3 linked regions of the Homo sapiens genome follow. The protein of the gene in region 2 purifies or fractionates together with the protein of the main gene of each other region. This does not show direct contact. Each region holds a gene or a part of one and is shown on either strand. Other genes may lie near its edges.

Region 1 (2,647 bases), on a different chromosome or scaffold from region 2:
TGGGAGGGACCCAGTAGGAGGTAACTTTCCCATGCTGTTCTCATGATAGTGAATAAGTCTCACAAGATCTGATGGTTTTTAAAAGGGGAATTTCCCTGCACAAGCTCTCTTTGCCTGCCGCCATCCATGTAAGATGTGCCTTTGCTCCTCCTTGCCTTCCGCCATGATTGTGAGGCCTCCCCAGCCATGTGGAACTGTAAATCCATTAAACCTCTTTTTCTTCCCAGTTTCAGGTATGTCTTTATCAGTAGCATGAAAAGAGACTAATACAGTTACACAACAATGTGAATATACCTCACTCTACTGACTTGTATGCTTAAAAATGGTTAAGATGGTAAATTTCATGTTATGTGTATTTTACAACAATTTTTGTTTAAAAGCAGCAAGAGCAAGGACCAAAGGAGGAGTCCCTGCCTCAGCCTGGCCCCTCTCTGCCTGCCATCTGGAGGTGTGATTAGGTAGAGGGTGAGCCCAAAGGGAATAAAACTCCTCCAGGTGACAACTCCTCAAGCTGCTGGCCTTCCAGAGCTTGCTCTCCTGGGTCTGACCCCAATATCTCTAGATCCACAGGCTTTTGTCCTTGTCTCCTAGCTCCCAGATACTACTCATTTCTCTGAGCACACATGAGGCCTCAGGTGACTTTATCTCTCTCTCTCTCACACACACACACACAACGCAAACCAATGCAATTCGTTAATTAGTTTTAAAAAAACAAACAAAACAGAGACTGGTCAGAATCCCAGAGCCCAGCCTGGCCGTGTTAGAGCTGTTTATTAACAGGGAGGGCCTGTAAGGTCCTTGGGGCAGTGGTGTGGTGATAAGTCGAGGACTCCATCTCAGCTCACCCAGCCGGGGCCTCTCTTTAACTCACCCTGGTATGGCTAAAGCCAAGGGCCAGGCACCTGAAAGAAAGTGCTAGGAGGAAAGGGCATTTCACCCTCCTAGACCCAGCCCCTTACCACACCCAGGGGGATCCCAGGGAAAACCTAGGGAAAGAAGTGAGGAAGAACGGGGTCAAGAGCACAGGCCAGGGACCTTCTCTTCCACTTGGGATCGGCTTTCTCACTCCCAGGAGCCTGTACAGGAGGCCCCAGGCCTGAGGGAAGGGCATTGCCTTGAGAGATCCTGGGAGAGGCAAGAGGATGTGACTGATAGGGTCAAGACAGGGTGAACAGGCAAGGGCAGGCAGGAGACAGGAGATGGTGAGTGAGCAGGGCTGTCCTCACTTCCTGATCCCAAGAGGTTTCCTCTTAAGGGGTCAGGGCTGGGACAGATGCCTTCTAGGGCACATGGTGTTATTCTTAAGGCCCTATGTGACCCCGGAAGGGACCAGGAGGGAGAGGCTGCACTCACCTGGAAGACTCTGCTTCACCCTGACATGATGTGCTTGACAAAGGCTAGGAAAAAAGTGAAAATCAGCCACCATGTGGCTCAGCGCCTCTAGGCCCATAAACCACTTGTCCCTTCTCTACACTGCCTGACTTCTAACCCTCCTGCTCCCCTTTCTCCAGACTGTGTAGTTCCTGCTCTTATTTGGGGGTTGGTGGGGAGAAGGTGGGTGGAGGGCAGATACCTAGACTCTGCTCTGTGCCCACTCTCTATGCTGATTCTCAACACAAATGGAATGAACTACATTATCTCTATGAATCCCCACAGCCTTGAGAAAGGTGCCAGCATCACCCCCATCCCTCAGATGAGAAAACTGAGGCTCAGAGAAAATCAGTGACTTAATCAAGCCCACCAGCTAATATATCACAGAGCTATCTCCAAAATCCATGCTCCCGCCATTACACTAGGAGGTTCACTCACAAGATGGAACAGAACAACATCCAATGGGGGGTCTACAAAAACCCACCTCAGACACATACCCTCCAGCTCCTGGGCCCACCCCACCCAAGCTGTTCCCATCCTACCATCCCTGGCTGCCCTGGGATGCAAGGCGCGGCTTAATACCTTCATAATTGATGCAGCCATTGGCATCCTCTTGCCCAGCTAACAGCTGCTCCACTTCAGCCTCAGTCATCTTCTCTCCTGCGGTGGGTTTGGGAGGTGGTGCGCTCTTAATTACAGATGGCAAAGGAGGAACTGGCAATACCCAAGTACCCCCTTAAGTGTGAAGGTCCAAGACTGCCTGGATCTGGGAGGTGGTTCAAACCAAGCCTCTCCCAGAGGTTCTGAAGGGTGCGGCCAAGGGTCTAAAGGTCTTGCCTAGTCTCCGAAGCCTCCCCCTCTGCCTTACAGCTTCCAGAGCCTCAGTGTTTCAGGCAAAGACAAGGACAGAAGCCCTGAGTCCCACCTCTCAGGCCTCAGTAGTAAGCCCTGCTCTGCCAACCTGCTCTCCCCTCCTCTCCCAAACCCTGGTACCTGCTGAGCAAACCCAACTGGGAATGGTTGTTCTTGCAGAGCCCAGGGAGACAGGGCCTGGATCAGGTCATTATCCTCAGGATGCAAAGACCCTTGTATACCACCCCCCACCCAACCAGCATATGTCACCTTGGCACCTCCCACCCCTCCATTCCTCCCACTTGGTCTTCATCTCTGCCCAGCTGGCATACCCAGGGTGGCAAGGACGTGCCGAAGCTCAGCACCCATGACCGTGCCATTGCTCTCCTTGTCAAAGACACGCAGGCCCTCCACGAAGTCCTCA
Region 2 (3,500 bases):
TTTATCTAACTGAGAAAGGACTAAAAATCTTTATGTTCATGCCAAAGGAAAAGTAATTAATGTGAAATTTCAATATCAGAAAAGAAAAATATTTGTTAAGACAAAATTAACCTCATGGGTCTACCACATGAAATTTTCCATCAGCCAAAGTGAATTAATGTGGAAGGGAATAGGAGACTAAAGCTTTCAACCTGAATAATGATATAAAATAATTACATAATTCTAAAATGGGTGGAATTTTTTGTGTAAAAGCCATTAATATAATACTATAATAAACTTTATTTTAAAATATTAATTTCAGAATGAAATTTTTAGAAAGAACTAATATAAAATTGATACTAATAGATTATTTTCTGTATGTTTGCAGATATAATTGTGATTGAGTAAATGCATGTAACATAATACAATCAGATTTAAATACTGTGTAAGATTAAGCACTTCCTGTGCTTTGGGAACTATTGTCTGGGATTTCTGTTAACTCATGATTTAATGATTTAAATTAAAGTTGTCAAATCAATATTTGGTATGTCATCTCAAAGAGCTTTAAGATCTTATAGAGAAAATTATTTCAGATAAAAAGAATTCACATGTGGTATGAAGTCGTACAGAATCACAATTCAGTTAGGGAAGTCCATGTGTCTTAACTGTGAGCCATAACAGGTCATGAGTTAAATTTGAAACTCTTTATTCATCACTTCTTTTTTTTTTTTTTTTGGATTGGGGCTTTAGTCAGTCCATTCTGCCCACAAATAAGCTGTGATAAAATACAGTAGGTTTGTTCCAAAGTGCCCTGGCTTCCATTACAAAGAAACTTCTATTCTTTGTTGACTAGGGAAACCCAAAAGATACTCTAAAATTGGGAACTAATCATTGAGTGAACCAGAAAACAGGGTGCTAGCATCAAGAAATATTCCTTTGGTTTATATTGTTAAAAGCTGGGGTGCTGTAGAAAGTTCACACACACATAAAAGCGTCCATTTGCTTACGAGTTCAATTTTTAAAAAAACAGCATTAATGTAGATTTCAAGATTCATTGGAAGAATTGGATATTCACTATCTGAAAGGAAACATCACACTGTGTTAATTTTTGTGTTACAAACCTAATGTTTTTAAAAAATCTTTCCTTAGTTTCTTAAGTATGGTTGGGTTCATAAAGGAAATTTACTTTCATATAACAAAGTCCCTATATTTTATCTGGAATTAGTGATGAAAATCTTTTTGCTTAGCTGTTCATGGTAAGGGCTATTTATACTGTGAGTTTTTAAATAAGCCCATGAGCTAATCTACTATATTTAAGGGTTTAGGCAAAATTTGAAATACACCCCACAGGATATTAGAGCTCTCTTCACAGCACTTTGAGACCTAGCCTGTGAGTTCGGTGTGTTTGTTTGTAACATACCTGTTGGTAGAATTCTTTTGCTCAGAGACTGACAGAGAAACTGTAAAGCATTCCTCATGGGATGACTTGAATGTGCTTCTCATGGGACAAGTTAATATCTTAGCTGCTGCTTTGTCTTTTTTCCTTATTTTACCTCAAAATACTGTTTTAAGTTTTGATTTTGAAATTGATTCATTTTCTCCCAATTCTTTGTGCTCTTATTACTGTAAATGACATTAAAAGACCTGATTTTAAAATAGAGGCTATGGGAAAATAGAATCGCATATCACTAAAAATGACACCACCCTCCTCTTCCCTTTGCTTTTCCCTTTTCCTCTGTCCATTTTAAGCCCCCACCCTATGTGGGCTTTTTTTTTTTTTTTTTTTTTCCACACTGTGACATCCAACTGGCTCCTGGCAGGGTTTCAGGTTTGATTTTTCTGATAAATAAATAAACTTTTAATTTTATCTTAGAACAGTTTTTATTTATTTATTTTTATTTTATTTTAGAACAGTTTTTATTGATTTTTATTTTATTTCAGAACAGTTTTAGATTCCTAACATTATTACAAAGCTAATACGCATATGCCCTACACCCAGTTTCCTCTATAATTGACATCTCCATTAGGATAGTATAGTACGTTTGTTACAATCAATGAACCAATATTGATATATTATTATGGGGGCTATGTAACAGCAATATGACTTAGCACTATTGATACTGACCTTGATCATTTGGCTTGAGGGGTTTGTCAGGTTAAAATCTTACTTTCATTTTTTCTGAAGACCATCAAAGGGGTTTCCTGAAAATTTTAATGACATGTTAATTTGATTTTTCCTTATTGGCGATGTGGTAAAGCTGCTATAAGTTTCTAAGTATTTAGGCAAAAATAATTTTGATGGTGGTAAAGAACATCTTATCTTTTTTTATGTATGTGTTGTAGGTGGGAATGAGATCTCGAAACCAAGGTGGTGAAAGTGCATCTGATGGGCATATCTCCTGTCCCAAGCCCTCCATCATCGGCAATGCTGGTGAAAAAAGTCTCTCAGAAGATGCAAAAAAGAAGAAGAAATCAAATAGGAAGGAGGATGATGTCATGGCCTCAGGAACTGTCAAACGACACCTAAAAACATCTGGAGAATGTGAACGAAAAACTAAGAAATCCCTGGAGTTATCCAAAGAAGACCTCATCCAACTACTCAGTATAATGGAAGGGGAGTTGCAGGTAGAGTCAAACTTTCCCAACTGTTATTGTGTCTTTGGTTTCTAAGCTATAAAATAAGAGAATGTAAATCTGTTCCCCTCTCTGAGTAATGAACTTTATGGGGAAAGGAGAATGTTTCCCTTATTTCTAAATCCCTAGTGCCTGGCACAAGTTTGCACTAAATAAATATTTGTTGAATGAATGCTAAATGAAAAAGTGCTGATTCCAACTTCAAACTTCTCTAGAAGCAGAAAATTTCTTCATTATATGATTTTGGTGGTGATTTAATACAGATCCTTTCGGTCAGTAGGTAATCAATTAGGTTATCTAATTTAGACATTGACTGTGACTGAAAAATGTAGAAATGCAGTGATTATTAAAATGGAGAGTTCAGGTCAATTGCTAATTTTGCTTTTTTCTAGGAGGTAGAGTGAAAGAGAGAAGGAGAGATAGAGGTAAATAAGGCTTTGTTGAAACCAGCCTTATTGCCCAGTCTTTTCTCTCTTTTTTTAACTTTCAGTCTCAATATTCTACAACATCATAGGAATTGAGATGCACACAAATAAGCAGAGCATTGCATTCATTATGAAGAACCTAATAGTTTCCTAAGCATTTTCACATCCACTATCTCGTATGATCACAATAAAAATGTGGGTATCATCTGTATTTTATAAATGAAGAATCTGAGGCCCAGAAGGATTGAAGGTTTGTCCGGATCTCATCTCAGGCTTCCTGATTCTTCGTCCTATGCTCTTTCCTCTGCCCACCCCCACCAATCTTATTTAGTTGCCATGAGCCATGTCCCTCCCTCCCATTAAATCTATGTTTCTAGGGACCCAGGAGGCAGGCAGGAAGTGAGGATTCTTCTGAGTTTCTGAGCCCTGAACAATTATATTTCTGGAAGTAGAGGAACAATA
Region 3 (3,731 bases), on a different chromosome or scaffold from region 2:
CCCTGGTTGGTTTTTTGCTGGAATCACCAGAGGGAGGGAAAAGGGAAGTGAGAAGGGACCCTTGGGATCCACGGGATGCCCGTTCCCCCACCCTGAGACACTCAGACCCCAAACACCAGCTTCATAGAGCTGGAGCCAGGGTGGCGTTGACAGCAGATGAGTGGACACCTCTCTGCATGGACACACAGGGTCCTGAGTGAGACCACACTGCTCGCCCAGCACAGAGCCTCAAACCTCCCCATCAGGCACTCACGGTCCCGGGCCACAAAAGTGCTTTTCTTCTGACTGACCAAGAGCCCCCCAGCTACAGTGCAAGTTCCCGAGAAAGGTAAACTTCAGGTGGATTAGCTGTCAGCAAAAGGAGGTGGGCTGAGCCCAGGTTGGGGTGCTGACTGTCCCAGTGCACCAGGTGGGTTTCATCTGAGTCTCTCCAGATGGCACCACTTCAGGGAGGACCTGTGCAGAGTGGTCTGGGCAGGGCTGCCCCAAGCCTAGCCTCCAGCCACCACTCCCCCACCCAAGAAGGCAGGCGGCCACTCACGTGAGCAAGTTTCCAGGCGCTGACAGTGAGCGTTCCTCCCGCCGGCTGCCCTCGAATGGGTTCCCAAAGGAGCGTTTACGTATCATGGTCTTCACCAGGATCTGAAGAGGGAGAAAAGAGGAGGTGGCAGGCAACTGCTTGGCCATGTGGGGGCGATTCTGGGCAACATCCTCCCTCTTCCTTCTCCCCAGCCCCTGCCAGCTCCCAGGGCTGGTGACCGATGGCAGACTTTGAGAGAAACTGGGCAGCACCACCCCGCAACCAACCCCCGCCGAAAGAATCCTCTGGGAAAAGGTGCTGTCCTGCACCACACCCTCAGCCACTGCTCAGCGTCTCTCCCAGGCCTCCCTGCTTTCCACCTCCCTCCCTCCCATCCCTTCCAAAACCCAGATCTGGTCCCCTCACTCCCTGACTCAGCATCCCCACCCAGAGGGGTCTGGAACTTGGCCTGTGGTCAGCCAGAGAGCCCCGGAAAGTTCTGGAGCAAGGACGTGAACCAGTCATTCTTGGTGATGCTCTTGGCTGCCATTTCCCATGAAGGGAATGGCCTGAGGGCCCCATAAGAGTCACTGGGCCCCTCACCCCACCCCAACCAGGGCACGGTGCCCCTTCAAGCTGTTTTGGGAATTCACAGAGCTTCTGACTTTTTAAGCATTTGCTGCTAACAAGAAAAATAAGTGTTTAAGAAACACTGATTTACCAAAAGATGCAAACACCCAAATGCCCATCAACTGAAGAAGATAAACTCAAAGCGGTCTGTCTGTGCAATGGAACATGATTCAGCCATAAGGAGTGAAGCACTGATCCATGCTACAACACAAACGGACCCTGAAAACCTTCTCCTACGTCAAAGTAGCCAGGCCCGAAAGGCCTCAGAGTGTAGGATTCCACCAGAATACACAAATCTATAGACACAGAGGGCAGGTGAGTGGGTGCCAGGGCTGGGGGGAGGTGAATGGAGAGTCATTGCTGATGGGCGGGGGTGTGAAGTAATGAAAATGTTCAGAACTATTGAGGAGATAATTGCATGTCACTGTGAATGTCCCAAATGTCACTGAATTGTTCACTTTAATTTTATGTTATGTGAATTCTACCTCAATTTAAAAGAAGGAGCGGGGGGGGGGAGGCGGGCGTGGTGGCTCATGCTTGTAATACCAGCACTTTGGGAGGCTGAGGCAGGTGGATCACCTGAGGTCAGGAGTTTGAGACCAGCCTGGCCAGCATGGAGAAACCGCGTCTCCACTAAAAATACAAAAATTAGCTGGGCATGGTGGTAGGCACCTGTCATCCCAGCTACATGGGAGGCTGAGGCAGAAGAATTGCTTGAACCTGGGAGGCGGAGGTTGCAGTGAGCCAAGACCACACCACTGCACTCCAGCCTGGGCAACGAGAGCAAAACTCCATCTCAAAAAAAAAAGAGAGAGAGAATGAAGGCCTCTTCCCCTACTGAGGTTCTTACAGTCACTGGGACATGCCAGCCCCTCTTTCCTCTGTGTCTGAGCAGATGTCACTCCCCAGGTGAGCCCACCCTGCCGCCTCCCCTGTGGCCTTGTCAACCCAGAGCAGGAGCTCCTCCTCTGTGAAGCCCCCAGCCCTTGCATCTCTCTGCACTGGCCTCTGATCACACAGGAGGCTGATTCTTCCCAGGTCCATCTTTCTTATAAGGCCAGGAGCCCCTCCCCCAGCCCCCCAGCCCCCTACCCCTGAGAGCAGGCACTGGGCTAAGCTCATCTTTGACACCTATGCCTGGCACACACTGGCTGCTCCGTGTTTGCTAAATGATGAACACATGCAGGGGGCCTGGACCTTGCCATCTTGTCCCAAGTCAGACCACTTCCCAGTATCTACCCGCCCATCCCTGCTCCAGCTGCCCTGGTTCAAACCCTGATTCAAACCCATGCTCTTGGAGTAAACATGTAAAACCTCGCCACACCCTCCCTCCACCTTCCTTGCCCTGCTTCAGTGGCCCCACCCAGTGTGTTAGCCCGTCCGCCCTCTCTCGGCGGAGTTAACACCCTACCATCCTCTCGGTGTCTATCCACTTCTTCCCAGTGGGTCCAAGTGTGCCTCCATTAGGGGCATGTCCTGTGGTCCCTCTACTGCACTGTACATACATTTGTTGGTTTGACCAGCATCTGCCTCTCAAGCATGGCAGAGGCCATGGGGGTTTTGTTCATCACTCCACCCAGCCCCTGCTCCCAGCACAGGCCTGAGAAACCACTCGGTGTTCAACAAGTGTTTCCCGTATAATGAATGCCTACTCCAGACCTCCAGGGCCAGACGCTTTCTCCCAAGAACCCGTCCCAGAGACCCAGGAAGGAAAGGGAGGGCAACTGATTCAGGACTGAGAACCTCCTGAGCCTGGAACACAGTAACCCACGGTGGGTGCAGAGTCCGACGCCAGCTGTCTCCTCGTCTACAGGCACAAGGGGTGGTTGAGGAAGGGTGAGTGGGTGTGGGTGGGTCTTCAACAGTGAAGGTCCTGCACAGCCCCAGGTGGGGAAAGAGTGGAGGAAGATGTGGATGGATGCCCCAGCCAGGGCTCAGCTTTGGGAGGAGGAGAGAGGAAGTGTGTGGGGAAGCAGAGAAGAGAGGTGCAAAGCTGGAGGAGCAGGAGCAGCATCTGGGCTCCTACAGGGGCAATCCTTCACAGCTGGACCTTCTGTGCCTTTCCAGCCAGTCTCAAGGGTCCCTCCCAGAGCCCAGGGGCCCGCCGGCCCACTGGGACTAGTGCTGGCCAACTGCAACCAGGCCTTTCGAGGTGGCTGTGGTGGGACAACCTGCTGGTCTCTGTCCCCAAGCCTGCTGCCTGGAACCTGGATCCCTGGGACTCTTGGTCTCTCTCTTGGAGCTAACTGCCCTCCTGGACAGGGACTTGGTCAGTGGCGATTCCCAGAGCCTCCAAGGTTAGGCCTGAGGACTCTACATTCTGGCTCCTTCTTCCTGGGTCAGGATCCAAATTCAAGGCCATAAAAGGGGACCTACTTGCTCCTAAGCAATTCTCACTCTCAGGAGATGGGCAGAACTTTCTGAGTGTGTGCGTGGAAGTCCCTGCCCCTACCCCTGGTGGCTGCCCACACAGCAGACGTGAGATATGCTACGCCATCCACCCTGGAGCCTAAAATTCCAGCTAGGCGGGAATCCTGGCTTAGAGACCTGGGCTCCGGCTCCCAACCCTTGCCCCTGCCTG

Evidence for each region.
Region 1: the proteins of FILIP1 (region 2) and MYL4 purify together in Homo sapiens (affinity purification with mass spectrometry; one large-scale study listed by BioGRID and IntAct). This does not show direct contact.
Region 3: the proteins of FILIP1 (region 2) and CAMKK2 purify together in Homo sapiens (affinity purification with mass spectrometry; one large-scale study listed by BioGRID and IntAct). This does not show direct contact.

What each region holds. Positions count from the first base shown.
Region 1 is NC_000017.11:47,221,764-47,224,410, reverse strand, and holds the end of MYL4 (myosin light chain 4), read right to left. Parts: coding exon 2,556-2,647; intron 2,032-2,555; coding exon 1,954-2,031; intron 1,398-1,953; coding exon 1,369-1,397; 3' UTR 1,354-1,368; intron 903-1,353; 3' UTR 732-902; downstream 1-731. UniProt on the Homo sapiens protein: Regulatory light chain of myosin. Does not bind calcium.
Region 2 is NC_000006.12:75,413,801-75,417,300, reverse strand, and holds part of FILIP1 (filamin-A-interacting protein 1), read left to right. Parts: intron 1-2,104; exon of another isoform or gene 2,105-2,181; intron 2,182-2,322; coding exon of another isoform or gene 2,323-2,328; coding exon 2,329-2,604; intron 2,605-3,500. UniProt on the Homo sapiens protein: By acting through a filamin-A/F-actin axis, it controls the start of neocortical cell migration from the ventricular zone. May be able to induce the degradation of filamin-A.
Region 3 is NC_000012.12:121,244,599-121,248,329, forward strand, and holds part of CAMKK2 (calcium/calmodulin-dependent protein kinase kinase 2), read right to left. Parts: intron 643-3,731; coding exon 542-642; intron 18-541; coding exon 1-17. UniProt on the Homo sapiens protein: Calcium/calmodulin-dependent protein kinase belonging to a proposed calcium-triggered signaling cascade involved in a number of cellular processes. Isoform 1, isoform 2 and isoform 3 phosphorylate CAMK1 and CAMK4. Isoform 3 phosphorylates CAMK1D.